3 separate regions of the Homo sapiens genome follow, and regions 1 and 3 are each linked to region 2. The links come from fine-mapping of genetic effects on gene expression. A gene starts in region 2. Each other region holds a variant in brackets. All regions are shown on one strand. Distances are between the middles of the regions.

Region 1 (2,764 bases), 22 kb before region 2:
AGAAGAGAAAACAGAAAGATTCAATAACTTGTCCAAGACTGTATGTCTTGGACACATAAAACTGTAACTAACCACATATTAACTACATGAAAAGATATGCTGACAGAAGGCTGGTCTCAGCCAGGAGCCAAGAAAAGAGGAGAGAAAGATTGAGACTTGGGGGGACTCTGCTGGCTCTATACACATGGTGAGGAGGCTTACTAGCTGATGTGAGCATCTGGTCAGTTTGCCTAGTACATCTCTCTAATGGAGTCAGATATGTCAGACAATTGTGCTATGAAGCTCAGACAACCAACTCTCCCACTCTCACTTTATGACCATCAGCCACCTTCTGACTATCACATTTTCCTACAAATGAAGGAATGCATACACCAGTTTAAACATTTATGTAGTAGTATTTCTCACTATAAATGAACACTTTGGCATTTGGGATTGTTCAATGGTCCCATGTAAGTTGGATCATGTGAGTCCATCCATCTGAGCTTTGTCAGTTCTTGATGTTCTGACAAACTTGAGTTTCTGCGCCTAGAGAGCTGAGGACCAAATCCTGGACTAAGGGGGCTCTTTCAAGGTAATGCCCTAGCAGCCCTACATGAGGCAGCCAAATCGCCTATCTGCTATCTTCATCTTGCTTAATTTAAATGCAATGATAATAAGTTGTTGGGATGTTCTGTCAGTTATTAAGTTTTCATCTCTCACATCCACACTTATCCTTCAATAGTCTGCAATGTGATGCTAGGTTTAGAATTCTAAAATACACATTTTTACTTTGTCAAGAGGCTGCAATGCTAGAGGAACAAAAACAGACTCCTTCCTGTGGGCTTCCTGAATGTTTCCTGTTCCTGTGGGCATCACACTAGCATCAGTTCTTTATTCCAACAGCTTCAGTTCCTTTCTGTGGCAGCAGCTTAATTCTGTTTGGGGTTTTTCCTCTATATTGCAGGATCAAATTCATTGTACCCTCTCAGAGGAACCAGCATAAGCTGCCCGATGTCCTCACTTCAGAATTCTGCTTCCTCCT[C/T]TGAGTTCCTAAATGCAAATAATTTTAACTTCTTTCCTTTGTTCCCCAATTCTAGGAGTAGTAAATGCTTCTTGCAGTTGCTACCTTTGTGACATCTTTTTTTTTCCCTTTCATTTACTTTGTTAACAACTTTATACCTAGATAAGGATTATATTCTCTCTGTTCAAATAACTGATGTGGTTTCCGTCTTGAATGATACAGATGCATATATGAGCTGCAATTTTTCTGCTTTCTTTCATTCACATTGGCAAAAAGATATTTATTCATGTCTAAGGATCTGTTTATGATTCACAAAAACAGAAACAATATGAATTCACATCAAACAATTTGTCAAAATATAAGAAAACTGAAAGAAATAACAACAGAGCAGCACATAGTGTAGATATTTGAGGTTTTTTTCCCATTCTCCATAACTGAGCAGTTTGCTCAAAGTGCTCCTATATCTTTTTCTCAGTTCTGGAAGCCAATAAATCCCAAAATAACACCATTACAGTAAAACAAGCTGCATAGCCCAAAGATGGATTTACTGGAATGATGTCAAAGGATTGTTTCCATGGTATTGATTGCTTACTTTAGAACTTTCCTAGACCTGAGATGTCGAAAGGTTATTATTTTGGCTTGAGGAGAGTCTTGAAAGGATATTCTAGGGGAAAAGAGCATGGCCTGACAGCTGCTTACTTCTGGGAGGATTCTGGGGCTGCCTTCAGGACAAAGGAGGGGCAACTTGAGATATATTTTGAGCAGCTAGAAGCCAAAGGTGTCTCCAAGAGAAGTAACAATTTAGCTGCTATGTCAAATAAATAAGCTAGTCCTGGGGTTTAAATCAAAATTTGAATTGAAAAATTGTGTAATTATTCAAGGTTAGATTGTTGTATATTGCTAAGTGTTGTACATGCTTTGGGTTTATTTAGGATGTCCCAGTTCAGAAAGGATGTCCCAGTTTACCCTATTACCTGATCATCTGCTTATGGCACAAATTTCTTTCATTTTCTCTGAAATCTGGAACCTCCCTCCATCATCACAGGTATAGGTTTTGTAGATGTAGCTCAGGACAGAGTTTATGGAAATAATTGTCTGTTTTTGTGCTTGCGAGTTAAGCCAAGCATCACTTATTTCAGGGAAATTGCTCCTTTCACCTTCTTCTTCTAGAGGGTGTTTCAACATTAATAATACAGAGAAGTAACAAGATAATCTTAAGCCTTTCTGAGTACTATGATTACAAGATATGCAATCCACTCACCACCCACACACTCCTCTTTCCCAAGCAGTGCACTGAAGCTATTTGAAGCAAATGACATTGTGTATCCAAAACATTTAATTCCTGGTTCCTTGCTACAGTCTTAACATTACCACTAATAAAACCTCTGTTCTAATCTTTGTATTGCCTCATTCTCACAGCCCTCTTAATTACCTGAGATTTTTTGTACTGTAAATTAACTCCCAAGTCACCAGATGCCTAGACATCATTTTCTACAAACGACAGTATACTTCAAATGACAACTGTAACATTAATGTGGGAGGATAAAAAGACTTATGTGGTTTTAACGAATTTGCATTTTATTTAAAGTGGTAAATAGTAACTCTGAGTAGACTGTCAATGGTTAGGTAAGTGTATTACAATCCCTAGAGCAAACACACACACATACAAAGAGACAATAGATAGAAGTGACAATAGATAAATTGAAATAAAATACCAAAGAATATTGAAATAATCCAAATAAAGGCAAGAAACGGGGAAACAGA
Region 2 (2,764 bases):
ATATACTAAAAATAATGATGACTACTGGGTGACTCCAAAGCATCCAGGGAAGATTGAACAGGTGGGGTGAGTCATAGTAGACTTTGCTCAGTTTTGATCCTGGATTTAAAGTAACGGCCTTGGGCTGGCGGGATAGAAGGGGATTCCAGGACCAGTCATGAAAGTGAGAATGAGTAAGTCAGGCTAGGGAAGGAAAAAGACAGTCATATGGGTGTCTTTGAAGGATGGTACCAAGAAATTTTAAAAAGGGGGTGGGCTCGGTGGCTCATGACTGTAATCCCAGCACTTTTGGAGGGTGAGGTGGGCCTCACCTGAGGTCAGGAGTTCTAGCCAGCCTGGCCAACGTGGTGAAACCCCGTTTCTACTAAAAATACAAAAAAAAAAAAAAAAAAAAATTAGCCAGGCATAGTGGAACGCGCCTATAATTCCAGCTACTCTAGGGGCTGAGGCAGGAGAATCACTTGAACCCAGGAGGCGGAGGTTGCAGTGAGCCGAGATCAAGCCACTGCACGACAGAGTGAGAATCTGTCTCAAAAAAAAAAAAAAGAAAAAGAAAAAGAAAAGCAATTTTAAAAAGGGCGATTCTGCCCTGTATTCCTCAGGAGATTCTCTTAGGAAGGGACTGCTAGAGCTCACTGTAGATGTGCCTCATTTTATGCAACAAATATATTTTTGAACATATAAAATAGTCAAATGTTGTTCAGCATCTACCATGCGTCAGACAATGAGCTAGGTGTTTTAACCCTTATACCTAATCTGTAAAATGGACATTATTATTTCCATTTTGCAGACTGATCAGCTGCAAGGCTAAACAGCATACGTATCAGTGTTGTCTAGCTAATAGTCTAGCTATTAAAGGGTGGAACCTCGATTGTAAGCCGGTTTGTCTGATTAGGAAGCCCAAGGTTTTGTGTGCGACACACATTCTTGTAAGTTAAATATTTAGGATACACTATAAGTGATCATCTGAAGAAGTTCTGTTAGTCATTTCCTTTGAAAGGCACGTTATCTACAAACCTTCTTGCAGGGATTTGAGGTAAAGGGCAAGGATTTTCTTGACTGCGTGCATGATGGCAGTTTGTTTCACTACACATGCATCACTCTGCCTCATCTGACACCAGATAACGACATCGAAAATACCCTTAATACATTTTTTAGGTCACTCCGTCCATTAAGCAGATAATCCCGCAAAGCAACGTCCCAGAGAGACGTTAGTTTCCCCAAAGGCCCAGGCTGTGGAGACCGGGATAGTGTAACTTGCGCCTGAAGTAAAAAGAGGGGCAGTCCGAGAGAGAGGAGGAGGGCACGTTTCACTACGGGTAAAGGGGCGCACGAGGGGTAAAGGGACTGGCGGGAGCAGGGTACCGCCCTCTAGTAAACCCGCCCCGCGGGGCGTGGCGGGGACGACGGGCCGCGCAGCCTGCGCATGCGCGCCGGCGACCACGCCTAAATAGCCGCAGCCTCTGCGCGTCGCCCTCCACGGTTACCCCGGCTCTCCGCCCCTCCTTCTCGCGGCGCTCGAGGGACCATGGCCGATCCTCGCGTGAGACAGATCAAGATCAAGACCGGCGTGGTGAAGCGGTAAGGAGCCGGGAGCGGCGCCCTGCACCTCCTCTTCGTCACCTCATGGCGGCCCGCGAGGCTGAGCGGAGCGCAGGCCCGAGGAGGCCCGAGGCGGGCTCCGAACTCCAGGCCGCACCCGGGGCTCCGCAGTTGGCTGGGACTGGCAGGGACCCAGCGGGGCGCGCTGACGCCCGAGCCCGCCAGCCTCGCACGCCGCTTCCCGTCCCTCTCCGCTCACTGGCCGCTCTGATTTGCCGGAAGAGTCGGCGGTGGCCCGGTTTCTCGGCGCCCGCGGTGGGAAGGTGGTGGGCCGCGGCCTGCGAGGGCGGGCCGGGCCCTGATCCCGTGCCTCCTGTGTGCGCGCGCCGGCCTCTCCTTGCTGAACTTGGCCCGGGGAAGCGGGATCCCAGCTGTGCTCTCAAATGGGCTTGAAAGCAGGCTCTGAAGTTTAGGGGGATGCGGAGGATCTGGGCCTCGTCAAAAAAGACCGTAGTGGAGCCGTGTGACCTAACATGGCTGGCGTGACTGGCAGGCTTTGAGAACTGGGCCTGAACTTCTAGCACACTCAGCAAACTTATGTGGCCTCACTTTCTCCAGTCAGATTCCCCGAAGCTCGCCCCAGAGGCTGTGAGATGCTGTTTAAATAACTTGTGAACCAGAAGTATCTGAGACAGGTCTTAATTTGGAATGTTTATTTTGCCAAGGACGTGCCCATGACACAGCCTCAGGAGGTCCTGATGACATGTGCCCAAGGCGGTTGGGGCACAGCTTGGTGTAATACGTTTTAGGGAGACCTCAGATATTAGTCAATGGGTAAGGTGTACCTTGGTTCCCTCCAGAAAGGCAGGACAACTAGAAGGTTGGGGGGCATCCAGGTCATAGATAAGAGACAAATGGTTGCATTCTTTTGAGTCTTTGATCAGCTTTTCACTTAATACACAATTTACATGTGAGAGAGGGATAGAAGAATAGTCACTTATGCCTTAGTCGGCTAAATGAATCTGCGATTTTACATACACAGTAGGGCAGAGGAAGCAGTCAGTTACGCATTTGTCTCAGGTGGGTAGAGGGGTGACTTTGAGTTCTGTTCTTTGTCCCATACCTGTGAAGATAAGCTATCAATTTACATTGCCAGGGTGAAATACAACAGAACTGTTTTAGAGTGAAGGTCTTGAGGCCCACAAGGAATTTCCTTGGGGGC
Region 3 (2,764 bases), 94 kb before region 2:
AGGCTCCTGGGCCAGCCACTGATAGCCCTGCCTTATGTTAAACTAAGACTTCTTAAGGAATTCATTGCTTGGGCTCCCTGCATTCCTGCAAGGCAGATCAGGAATGAGAAGTTAGATAACTGTTAAAAGCATGCTCTGAGTTAGTGGGTATCGAAGCTCCAGAGCACAAATTGATCCAAGGCAAAGACCACTAGATCATGCTACTTCCAGCCCGTGCAAAGTGGCTACCAAATGGCTATTTTCTAAACGCGTGGTGTTTCTGTAACCTTGGCCGAGGGCTTTCAACCCTATACAATCGTGCAAGTAGACAGAGGTAAGAGCACCTTTTCTCGTGTTAACGTTAATTTTATTTTCAGAAATGAGTCAGGCCTGCATCTGCCTGTTGAGAAAAGCTATTTTCCAAAGTAGTGTCTGCACTTGGCATGACCTTAGGTGGGCCATGGACTTGCTCTGTGTTCACTTTTGCAAGAAACTTTTTAGGAAAGATTGTAAAACACTTTGAAAGCTAGCAACATTTGTGTACCAAAAGTCTGTTTCTCCCAACTCAATTCTGGCTGTTCTCTTCACACAACTTAACAGAGTTAATTGATGCCTAACTCTTTCTTAGTTTTTCCCCATCTGAAAAAAAGTATTAAGTTCCTTATTTCCCAGGTGGTATTTTCTTAATATTTCTAAGTAACATAGTCACTGGACCACCTACATCAGCATTGCCTCTGCCTTATGTTAAAATGCCTCGGGAAATTCTGAGGTGAGGCGGGATTTTTTAAGATGAAAATTTTGCGGCACCACATCAAACTGAACCGGAATCCAAGAGGGACAAGTCAAGGACTCTGCATTTTAAAAATCATTTGTTGAGGTTCACATAATATAAAACTAAGCATTTTTAAACGCTTTAGTACATTTACCACGCTGGGCAACCACCACTTCTATCTACTTTCAAAACATTTGTATCACTTGAGAGGCAAACTTGTCCAACCAGCGGCCTGTGTGTGGCCTGCACATGACCCAGGACAGCTTTGAATGCGGCCCAACACAAATTTTTAAACTTTCTTACAACATTGTAAATTTTTATGACTTTTGTTTGCTTGTTTTTTAGCTCATCAGCTATCATTAGTGTTAGTCTATTTTATGTGTGGCCCAAGACAATTCTTCTTCTTCCAGTGTGGCCCAGGGAACTAAAAAAACTGGACACCTCTGCTTTAGAGTAAAACCCCTTAGTCATTAAAAAGAATCTGCATTTTTAACAAGCTCCTCATGTTGTCACTGCACACCCTAGGGTTTGAGAACCACTGTAGTTAATTTAAAGGTGGGAGGCCGGGCGCGGTGGCTCACGCCTGTAGTCCCAGCACTTTGGGAGGCCGAGGCGGGCAGATCATGAGGTCAGGAGATCGAGACCATCCTGGCTAACACGGTGAAACCCGGTCTCTACTAAAAATACAAAAAATTAGCCGGGCGTGGTGGCGGGCGCCTGTAGTCCCAGCTACTTGGGAGGCTGAGGCAGGAGAATGGCGTGAACCCGGGAGGCAGAGCTTGCAGTGAGCCGAGATCGTGCCGCTGCACTCCAGCCTGGG[T/C]GACAGAGCGAGATTCCGCCTCAAAAAAAAAAAAAAAAAAAAAGAATTAGGTGGGAGGTACATAAATATGACATTGAACCACATAGGTGAGCAAGTTTATGATCCTGGATGTTAGGATTTCAACTGCATTCTGTTAATAATGTCTTCTATAATGCTATGGGGTTTGTATCACATTTCACATCATTAAAAGACTGGATCCTTACAGCATACTTGAGAAGTAAGCATTAGCACATCCATTTTACAGATTTGAAAAGCAAAGTTCATCATGGCTTCTTAGTGGAACTTGACCTAGCTACAAAGAGGCGGAGTACGATCTGGAATCTAGGCCTCTGGCTTTGGGATCTTGGCCTCCCTCTTGTGAGCACCTCCACTGAGAAGCCCCTGACCCTGCTAGGAAGGCTGCAGAATGAAGGGACTCAGCCTGAGAGAGGCCTCTACACCTCAGGGGCTACTTTCATTTTAAAAGTTCTTTTTAATGCCTCTGCTTTTCAGAGTCTCATTTGGCCCCTCAAAAAGGTTCGAGATATATGGCAACCCATGAAAGGGAAACAGAAAAGTTATAACAGATGAGCAAAACAGTTTGAAATATTGATGTATTTAAAAGAGGTCTCTCTTGGTGCCATTGGAGAAGCGTTGCCATTTCTTACTTAATGGATTAACTGCTAGGCTGACATACAGTGTCTTTTTAAACAAAGCTCCCTGCTAATCCAGACCAGTCTCTTATGTACTATTTGTTCACCCAATCTAACATGCATCAGAGCCTGAACGTGTGTTGTCTGTGGATAACTAAGGCTGGGATCACGCAAAATGGTTGATCACAGATCTGAACTGGCATTTGGTTTACCCTGACAATAACCTGAAAATATCTCTATAGATACACAGATAAACGTGGCAGACAGTTACTTTGCTTATCCTGTTTTGCATTGACTGGAACTTAGAGATGCAGGTTTCAATTGGATAAAAACACGGCAGCTAAAATATTTTGCCTTGCAATAGAGAAAGGAAACTGCATATGGCTGAAACCCTCCCCGACCGCCTGCTCTTCCCCCAGTCAAGGTGTCTGTCACCAAAAAAGGGCTATATTTGTAAATGTTAACGAAAGCTAAACACAGGGTTTTGCTATGGTAAGAAAATGCCACACTCCCCTTCTCCATAAATTGGGTTTCTAGGAAGCAATCCCTCCCCCAAGAAAC

The links. PIP is the estimated chance that this variant, and not a neighbour inherited with it, causes the effect.
Region 1: its variant is the best candidate, but not a certain one, in a credible set for the expression of TBCA in blood mononuclear cells (TOPMed, PIP 0.66).
Region 3: its variant is the best candidate, but not a certain one, in a credible set for the expression of TBCA in whole blood (INTERVAL, PIP 0.54).

What each region holds. Positions count from the first base shown.
Region 1 is chr5:77,796,837-77,799,600 of GRCh38, reverse strand. No RefSeq gene overlaps it. Among named protein-coding and RNA genes, the nearest start is that of TBCA, 22 kb to the right of the region's middle. The variant C/T (reference allele first, on the strand shown) is at 1,022.
Region 2 is chr5:77,775,022-77,777,785 of GRCh38, reverse strand. TBCA (tubulin folding cofactor A) reads left to right here and starts at 1,447. Exons shown (of 4, transcript NM_004607.3): 1 at 1,447-1,581. The coding sequence starts at 1,529. RefSeq lists silencers at 1,301-1,560, 1,681-1,850.
Region 3 is chr5:77,869,427-77,872,190 of GRCh38, reverse strand. No RefSeq gene overlaps it. Among named protein-coding and RNA genes, the nearest start is that of TBCA, 94 kb to the right of the region's middle. RefSeq lists an enhancer at 1-308. The variant T/C (reference allele first, on the strand shown) is at 1,572.